2 linked regions of the Homo sapiens genome follow. The gene in region 1 interacts genetically with each later gene. Each region holds a gene or a part of one and is shown in the gene's direction. Other genes may lie near its edges.

Region 1 (3,500 bases):
TTGTTCTTTTTTTGTTTTTGTTTTTTTGAGACAGAGTCTAGCTGTGTTGCCCAGGCTGGAGTGCGGTAGGGAGATCTTGGCTCACTGCCAAGATCAACCTCCTGGGCTCAAACAATCCTCCCACCTCAGTCTCCCAAGTAGCTGGGACCACAGGCGTTTGCCACCGTGCCCAACTAATTTTTGTATTTTTAGTAGAGATGAGGTTTCACCATGTTGCCCAGGCTGGTCTTGAATTCCTGGACTCAAGTGATCCACCTGCCTCAGCCTCCCAAGTGTTCAGATTACAGGCATAAGCCACCATGCCTGGCCTGACTTTATTATTCTTAATATAGTTATTTGTTTGATCAGTTCCCCTCCTGTCATCACCACTGGCCCCTCTCCTATGTGGAGCCTTCCTCACCCTACTTGGACTCTTGACTCCACATGTTACGCTGCTGCCCCAGCGTGGGCGTCTTTCTCACCCCGCACAGACTCTGACATCCCACACTGCTCAACGACCCTACATGGACATCCTCCTCATCCTGCTTGGGCTCTGACACCCTACAGCAGGCCACCCCCTGCCATGAGTGGTCACCCTCCTCACCCTAGTTGGGCCTGTAAACTCCATATTACTTGTCCCCATGCATGGATACCCTTTTCACCCCACATGGCCTCTGACACCCCACCTTGGACAGCCATCTTACAAGGGAGCACTTCTTCCCCTGCTCAGGCCTGCTGGCCCCCAGCATGGATGCTCTTCTTCACTGGTCCTGCTCTGACACCCCCGGGAGCTTCCTGTGCAGGCGTCTTCCTCACCCTGCTTGGGCTTTGACACCCTGCACAGACATCCTTCTCTCCTTCTTCAGGCTCTTTCCTTCTCTGAGCCACCATAGCTTTCTCCTCCACATACCTGATGGCTTTAGTCTGATTTGTTAGGGAAAGGAGGGCTACATAGGCCTGGCCTTGAGTCTTGATTCTTCTGTTTACCAGCAGGGTAATGTTGGCAAGTTGTTGTTCTTCTCTGAGCCTTGATTCTGTCTTTGGAAGATGGAACTGATAATAGCCTCTTTTACAGTGGCATGGCGGGGGGGTACTAAATGCAAAGCACCCAGCTACACAACCATATAAAGGAGGCATTCAACTACTAACCGTTGCCATCTTTTTAATTTTCCCTGGGCTTAGCCTCAACTAAGGCTGCCGAAGCCTTTATCTCTGACTCTTGCCCTTCTGTTAATCTTGCAGGTCTACTTTGAGGATGAGGACAGGGCAGAACTATACCGGGTGCCTGCCAAGAGCACCTTGCTACAGGTTCTACAGCACCAGAGGTGAGTCATCTCATGGCGCTGAGTAGATTGGGGAAGATGCTCAGTGTATTAGTCCATTTTCACACTGCTGATAAAGACATACCTGAGACTGGTCAGTTTATAAAGAAAAGAGGTTTAGTGGAGAACTCACAGTTCCACGTGGCTGGGGATGCCTCACAATCATGGCAGAAGGCAAGGAGGAGCAAGTCACCTCTTACGTGGATGGCGGAAGGCAAAAAGAGAGAGCTTGTGCAGGAAAACTCCCTTTTTTTTTGAGATGGAGTTTTGCTCTTGTCGCCCAGGCTGGAGTGCAATGGTGTGATCTCGGCTCACTGCAACCTCCACCTCCCAGGTTCAAGCAATTCTCCTGCCTCAGCCTCCTGAGTAGTTGGGATTATAGGCACCTGCCACCACGCCCGGCTAACTTTTGTATTTTTAGTAGAGACGGGGTTTCACCATGTTGGCCAGGCTGGTCTTGAACTCCTGACCTCAGGTAATCCACCTGCCTTGGCCTCCCAAAGTGCTGGGATTACAGGCATGAGCCACCACTCCCGGTCAAAAACTCCCATTTTTCAAAGCATCAGATCTCGTGAGACTTAGTCGCTATCACGAGAACAGCACAGGCAAGACATACCCCCATGATTCAGTCATCTCCCACCGGGTCCCTCCCACAACACATGGGAATCATGGGAGCTACAAGATGAGATTTGGTTGGGGATACAGAGCCAAACCATATCACTCAGGCACCATCCGAGGAGTAGAGCCAGGTTCTCATTCCGCTGCTGACTGATTGCCTCATACTCCCCTCCCTTCTGCCCTGAGCACAGAGCTGTGTGAGACAGCAGCCATGGAGACTGGCCGGGCCCATAAAACTCAGCCATTGGTCAAACAGGCTCCAGTGTGATGATAGCCCACTGCACCACAGCCATAACACTCCAGACCAGGGGAGATAAATAGGACTGGTCTTTGAAGGGAAAAGCTGCCTGGCTTTTTGTACATGAAGGCTGCTAGGATGGCCTTTTTTTTTTTTTTGAGACGACATCTCGCTCTGTCACCCAGGCTGGAGTGCAGTGGTGCGATCTTGGCTCACTGCAACCTCTACCTCACCCCCCAGGTTGAAGTGATTCTCCTGCCTCAGCTTCCTGAGTAGCTGGGATTACAGGCGCCTGCCACCATGCCTGGCTAATTTTTGTATTTTTAGTAGAGACGGGGTTTCACCATGTTGTCCAGGCTGGTCTCAAACTCCTGACCTCAGGTGATCCACTCACCTCGGTCTTCCAAAGTGCTGGGATTACAGGCGAGCCACTGCACCCGGCCAGCCTTCCTTTTCCTAATCGTACCTATACCTATGTCTCCTGATGCTCTTTCTTTTGTTTGCTTTTTCTTATTTTGAATTTTTTTTTTTTTAAATAGAGATGGGGTTTTACCATGTTGGCCAGGCTGGTCTTGAACTCCTGGGCTCAAGCAATCCACCCACCTCAGCCTCCGAAAGTGCTGAGATTACAGATGTGAGCCACCACACCCAGCCCCTAAAATTTTTTTTTAAATTATTTTTATAATAGAGACAGGGTATCTTCTCCAGGCTGGTCTTGAACTGGGTTCAAGCAGTCCTCCTGCCTCACCCTCCCAGGTAGCTGGAATATCAAGTGCATGCCAGTGACCCGGCTCCTGATACTGTCATATGAAGAAAGCATTGGCTCTTGAAGTCAGACCCATCATCATTTACTGGCTGTGTGACTCCAAGCACACGCTGCCTCTCTGGGACTGCCGCCTCATCTCTGGAATGGGAGTAATACATGCCTACACATTTCTCAAGTATTTGAGAGCCAATGACAGGATAGGAGTTGAAGTGCTGTTGTAAACTGCACAGGGCAGTCCTGCTATAGGAGGGCATCTTTGTCATTAGCAGTGGCAGCAAGTTGGATTTGGCAGTTGTCTCAGAGAAGCTGTGAGGTGTTCCTGGACTATAAGGGAAAGCCCTCAGCAGATTTGCAAATTGACTCTTGGACTACTTTTCCTTAAGCTTTGAGCAAAGCAAAGCAGAGAAAAGCAGATGCTTTTGCACTTAAGCTAAAAGAGCCCAATGTATTAGTGTAAAGAGAGTGGTTGGATGTGGTAGGAAATGAGGCTAGAAAGCTAAGTTAGGGCCATACACGAAGGCCTGAATGCCCTGCTAAGGAGCGTAAACTTTATCCTGATTGTGGTGTACACCAGGGT
Region 2 (3,653 bases), on another chromosome or scaffold:
ACACTTTGCACCCTGCTTTGCACCCAAGAGCACCATGCCTAGCACATGCTGCCACCATTGTGCATGGCTTGCAGGGCGTGCCCCCAGCTTTATGGTTTGACTTGCCCTTTGTCTGCCCTTGGTGTCTGGAGAGGGCGGTGGTGGATAGGAGAGGCCCCGCCCTGGAGTCTGTGGCGGTGAGCTGTGGCTGCAGGCGCTTGTACTCTGTGCCTTTCTCAGTTCGGTGGCAGTGCTGGCACCACCTTCTGCAGGGCGCCTCTGAGCTCGAGGGAGGGTGGACAGAGGATCCGGGAGCTGCCACCTGCAGGAGCGCTGCAGAAGTAGCAGGGGGCCCTCAGCACTGGCGCTGGGCAGTAGCCCTAGAGAGGCTTCTTGTTGACTGCCTGGCCTGCTGGGGCCCTCAGGAGGACGAAGGAACGAAGCTAATGTGGCAGGGGCTGTGTGGTGAGACTCCTCCAGGTTCCTCCGCTGCCTGTGGTGAGCAGCTTCTCGTTGCGGAGACTGTTTCCTCATCTGCAGGATGGGGACATTGCCAGCTCCAGGTGTTTTCTGTGAGGGTCCAGTGCTCTCTGACCTACATGGCCTGGTAAGGGTTGCCTTGAGGTCTGCGGCACTCTGGAGGAATCACTGAGAACCGGGGCGGGTGCTCACTTACCCAGGACAGGTCTTCCTAGGGCAGCACCTCGATCAGAGAGACCACATGTCAGTGTCTGATCCTTGGCCTCTCAGACACAGGGCTTCCCACAGAAATAGCCAGGGGCCCACTGACAAGGCCCTTCCAGGTGGGTATATCACCCCAAGGACACGTCACTCCTGGACAGCCAGTCCTGTGTGAGACTGGCCCGGCATGGAGGTGCTGAGGCAGCTGTCCGTCCAGGAGAAGGCCCAGGGGTGGTAGGTGGTTGGGGTCAGCGGGGAGGCCTCTGAGAGCAAGCGCGGCTCATGGGAGCTGGGCGTCTGCTGATCGGCGCACCTCCATACACCCCAGGACTGCTCCCTACACGAGGTCCTGACTTCCAAGTGTTGTGGCGAGGCGCCTGGGAGATCACCTGGGCTGTCGTCGTCTTTGAGGGCTAGGGCATCCCTCCTGCCCCTCCCCTGATGGGCCCTCAGAGGACTGAGTGGGTCATGAATGGTGAGCCTTGGGTGCAGTTTCAGGCACATAGCAGGTGTTCAGTAAATGCAGCTTGGCTGGGTGCAGTGGCTCAAACCTGTAATTCCAGCATTTTGGGAGGCCAAGGCGGGTAGATCACTTGAAGTCAGGAGTTTGAGACCAGCCTGGCCGATATGGTGAAACCCTGTCTCTACTAAAAATATAAAAAAGTTAGCTGGGTGTGGTGGCGGGCATCTGTAATCCCAGGTACTCGGGAAGCTGAGGCAGAAGAATCGCTTGAACCCTGGAAGCAGAGGTTGCAGTGAGCTGAGATCGTGCCATTGCATGATCTAGCCTGGGCAACAAGAGCGAAACTCTGTCTCAAATAAATAAATAAAAAATAAATGCAGCTCCTGCCTCAGTCTGAGCTTGAACTTGCTTAGTGTCAGGCATTCCTTTGGGATCAGTGCAAGGTCTACTTCATCTTCCCGTGGGTGTTTATCACAGGCCTGCCAAGTGCTGGGCCCCACAGCAGGTGCTGCGGACACAGGAGTGAGCACAGCCAGAGCTGGTGGCCGCTCCCATGGGGCCATGGTCTGGAGGGGGAGCCCGAGATCAGTGAGACGGTCATCTCACTGCAGTCCTGGTACAGATGGAAAGGAAACATGGCTTTATGACAGCTGTCCCAGAGGAACCGGCCCTCAGCTGCTGAGGAAGTGACACTTGAGCTGAAGGCTGTGTGGGAGTTGCCTGGAGCCTGGGGTGGGAGGATCATCAGCCCGGCAGTGGCCCTGTGGCCAGCAGGTGCACTCAAGAAGCTAAGGCCAGGGCCATCTGAGCACAAAGATTGCGAGGCGAGCAGACGGAGGGCAGCCCGGGAGATACGCGTATTAGGGGCTTGGCTCTTGGACCTAAGGGTGGTGGGAAGCCCTGGGGTGGGGGTGAGTTGGGAGTGACAGGGCCAGGCTTGTTCGGTAGCGAGTGCGTTGCTGGAGGAGAGTGGGCTCAGAGAGCAGCAGGAGCAGGGGAGGGTGGAAGAGGGTGGAGGCCGGGGAGGTGGGTTGCCATGATGGATCTGTAGGGGAGGGTGGAAGAGGGCGGTGGCCGGGGATGTGGGGTACCATGATGCATCTGGAGGGGAGGGCGGAAGAGGGCGGTGGTTGGGGGTGTGGGGTGCCATGATGGATCTGGAGGGGAGGGTGGAAGAGGGTGAGGGCTGGAGAGGTGGAGTACCATGATGGATCTGGAGGGGAGGGTGGAAGAGGGTGGTGGCTGGGGATGTGGGGTGCTGTGATGGATCTGGAGGGGAGGGTGGAAGAGGGTGGGGGCTGGAGAGGTGGGGTACCATGATGGATCTGGAGGGGAGGGTGGAAGAGGGTGGTGGCTGGGGATGTGGGGTGCTGTGATGGATCTGGAGGGGAGGGTGGAAGAGGGTGGGGGCCAAGGAGGTGGGGTGCCGTGATGGATCTGGAGGGGAGGCTGGAAGAGGGCGGTGGCCAGGGAGGTGGGGTGCCATGATGGATTTGGGAGCTTTGGGGGAAGGTAACAGCCATAGGACTGAGGACCGAGGACAGCCTGGGGGCTGGTCACATCCTCCCATTGCCCACAGCACTTGGATGACACAAAGCCCCTGTGCACCAGCAACAGCTGCGGTGCAGGGCACAAGCACCTGGTGCCCCGGCCTCCCTCCACTGTTCCCGCAGCGGCTGTCCATGCCCCAACCCCACGCTTCTGCCCTGCCTTCCTTCCTGTGCTCACCCAGCTCCTCTACTGGTGTTCCAGAGCGAACGCACTGTGAGCCCAGATTACGCAAGCACACCCCTCCACATTGCACTGTGGGGATGAAGGTGGGAATGGGGTGGGGGGCTCTACCTGTCAGAAACGGGAGTGGGCTGGGTGCGGTGACTCACGCCTGCAATCCCAGCACTTTGGAAGGCCGAGGTGGGCGGATCACCTGAGGTCGGGAGTTCAAGACCAGCCTGGCTAACATGGTGAAACCCTGTCTCTACTAAAAATACAAAATTAGCCAGGCGTGGTGGCGCATGCCTGTAATCCCAGCTACTCAGGAGGCTGAGGCAGGAGAATTGCTTGAACCCGGGATGCGGAAGTTGCATTGAGCCAAGATTGTGCCATTGCATTCCACCCTGGGCAACAAGAGCAAAACTCCATCTCAAAAAAAAAAAAAAAAAAAGAAAAGAAAAGAAACGGGAGTGACAGCTCTTGCTTGTAAAAATTAAAAATTAGAAAATAACAGAAAAGGCAGTTGAGCACTCGGGTGACTTGCAGGCGTCAGTGACGTCATCTCCTGGTGTGGTTCATATCCGATGCATGAGCTGACTGTGGAGAAACTGGAATCAGCCTGCATGGGTCCATGTCCTGGGTCCCGTGTCATTTGCCTGCCTTGGGTCTCCCTCAGTGCTGCCTTTCTCCTGTGACCTGGCAGTAGGGTCGGCCTGGGGAGCTGCATTGTTCTTGTGCTTCCGGGCTCTCCCAGGGATTTCAGGATGCATGATGGGTGGACCGCACCCTGGCATGGGAACCAGGAGGCCTGGCTTCCACT

Evidence for each region.
Region 2: changes in TTC4 (region 1) and NSMCE1 together harm fitness less than expected from each alone (positive genetic interaction), as found in Homo sapiens cells (one large-scale study listed by BioGRID).

What each region holds. Positions count from the first base shown.
Region 1 is NC_000001.11:54,736,361-54,739,860, forward strand, and holds part of TTC4 (tetratricopeptide repeat protein 4), read left to right. Parts: intron 1-1,221; coding exon 1,222-1,304; intron 1,305-3,500.
Region 2 is NC_000016.10:27,227,415-27,231,067, reverse strand, and holds part of NSMCE1 (non-structural maintenance of chromosomes element 1 homolog), read left to right. Parts: intron 1-3,653. UniProt on the Homo sapiens protein: RING-type zinc finger-containing E3 ubiquitin ligase that assembles with melanoma antigen protein (MAGE) to catalyze the direct transfer of ubiquitin from E2 ubiquitin-conjugating enzyme to a specific substrate.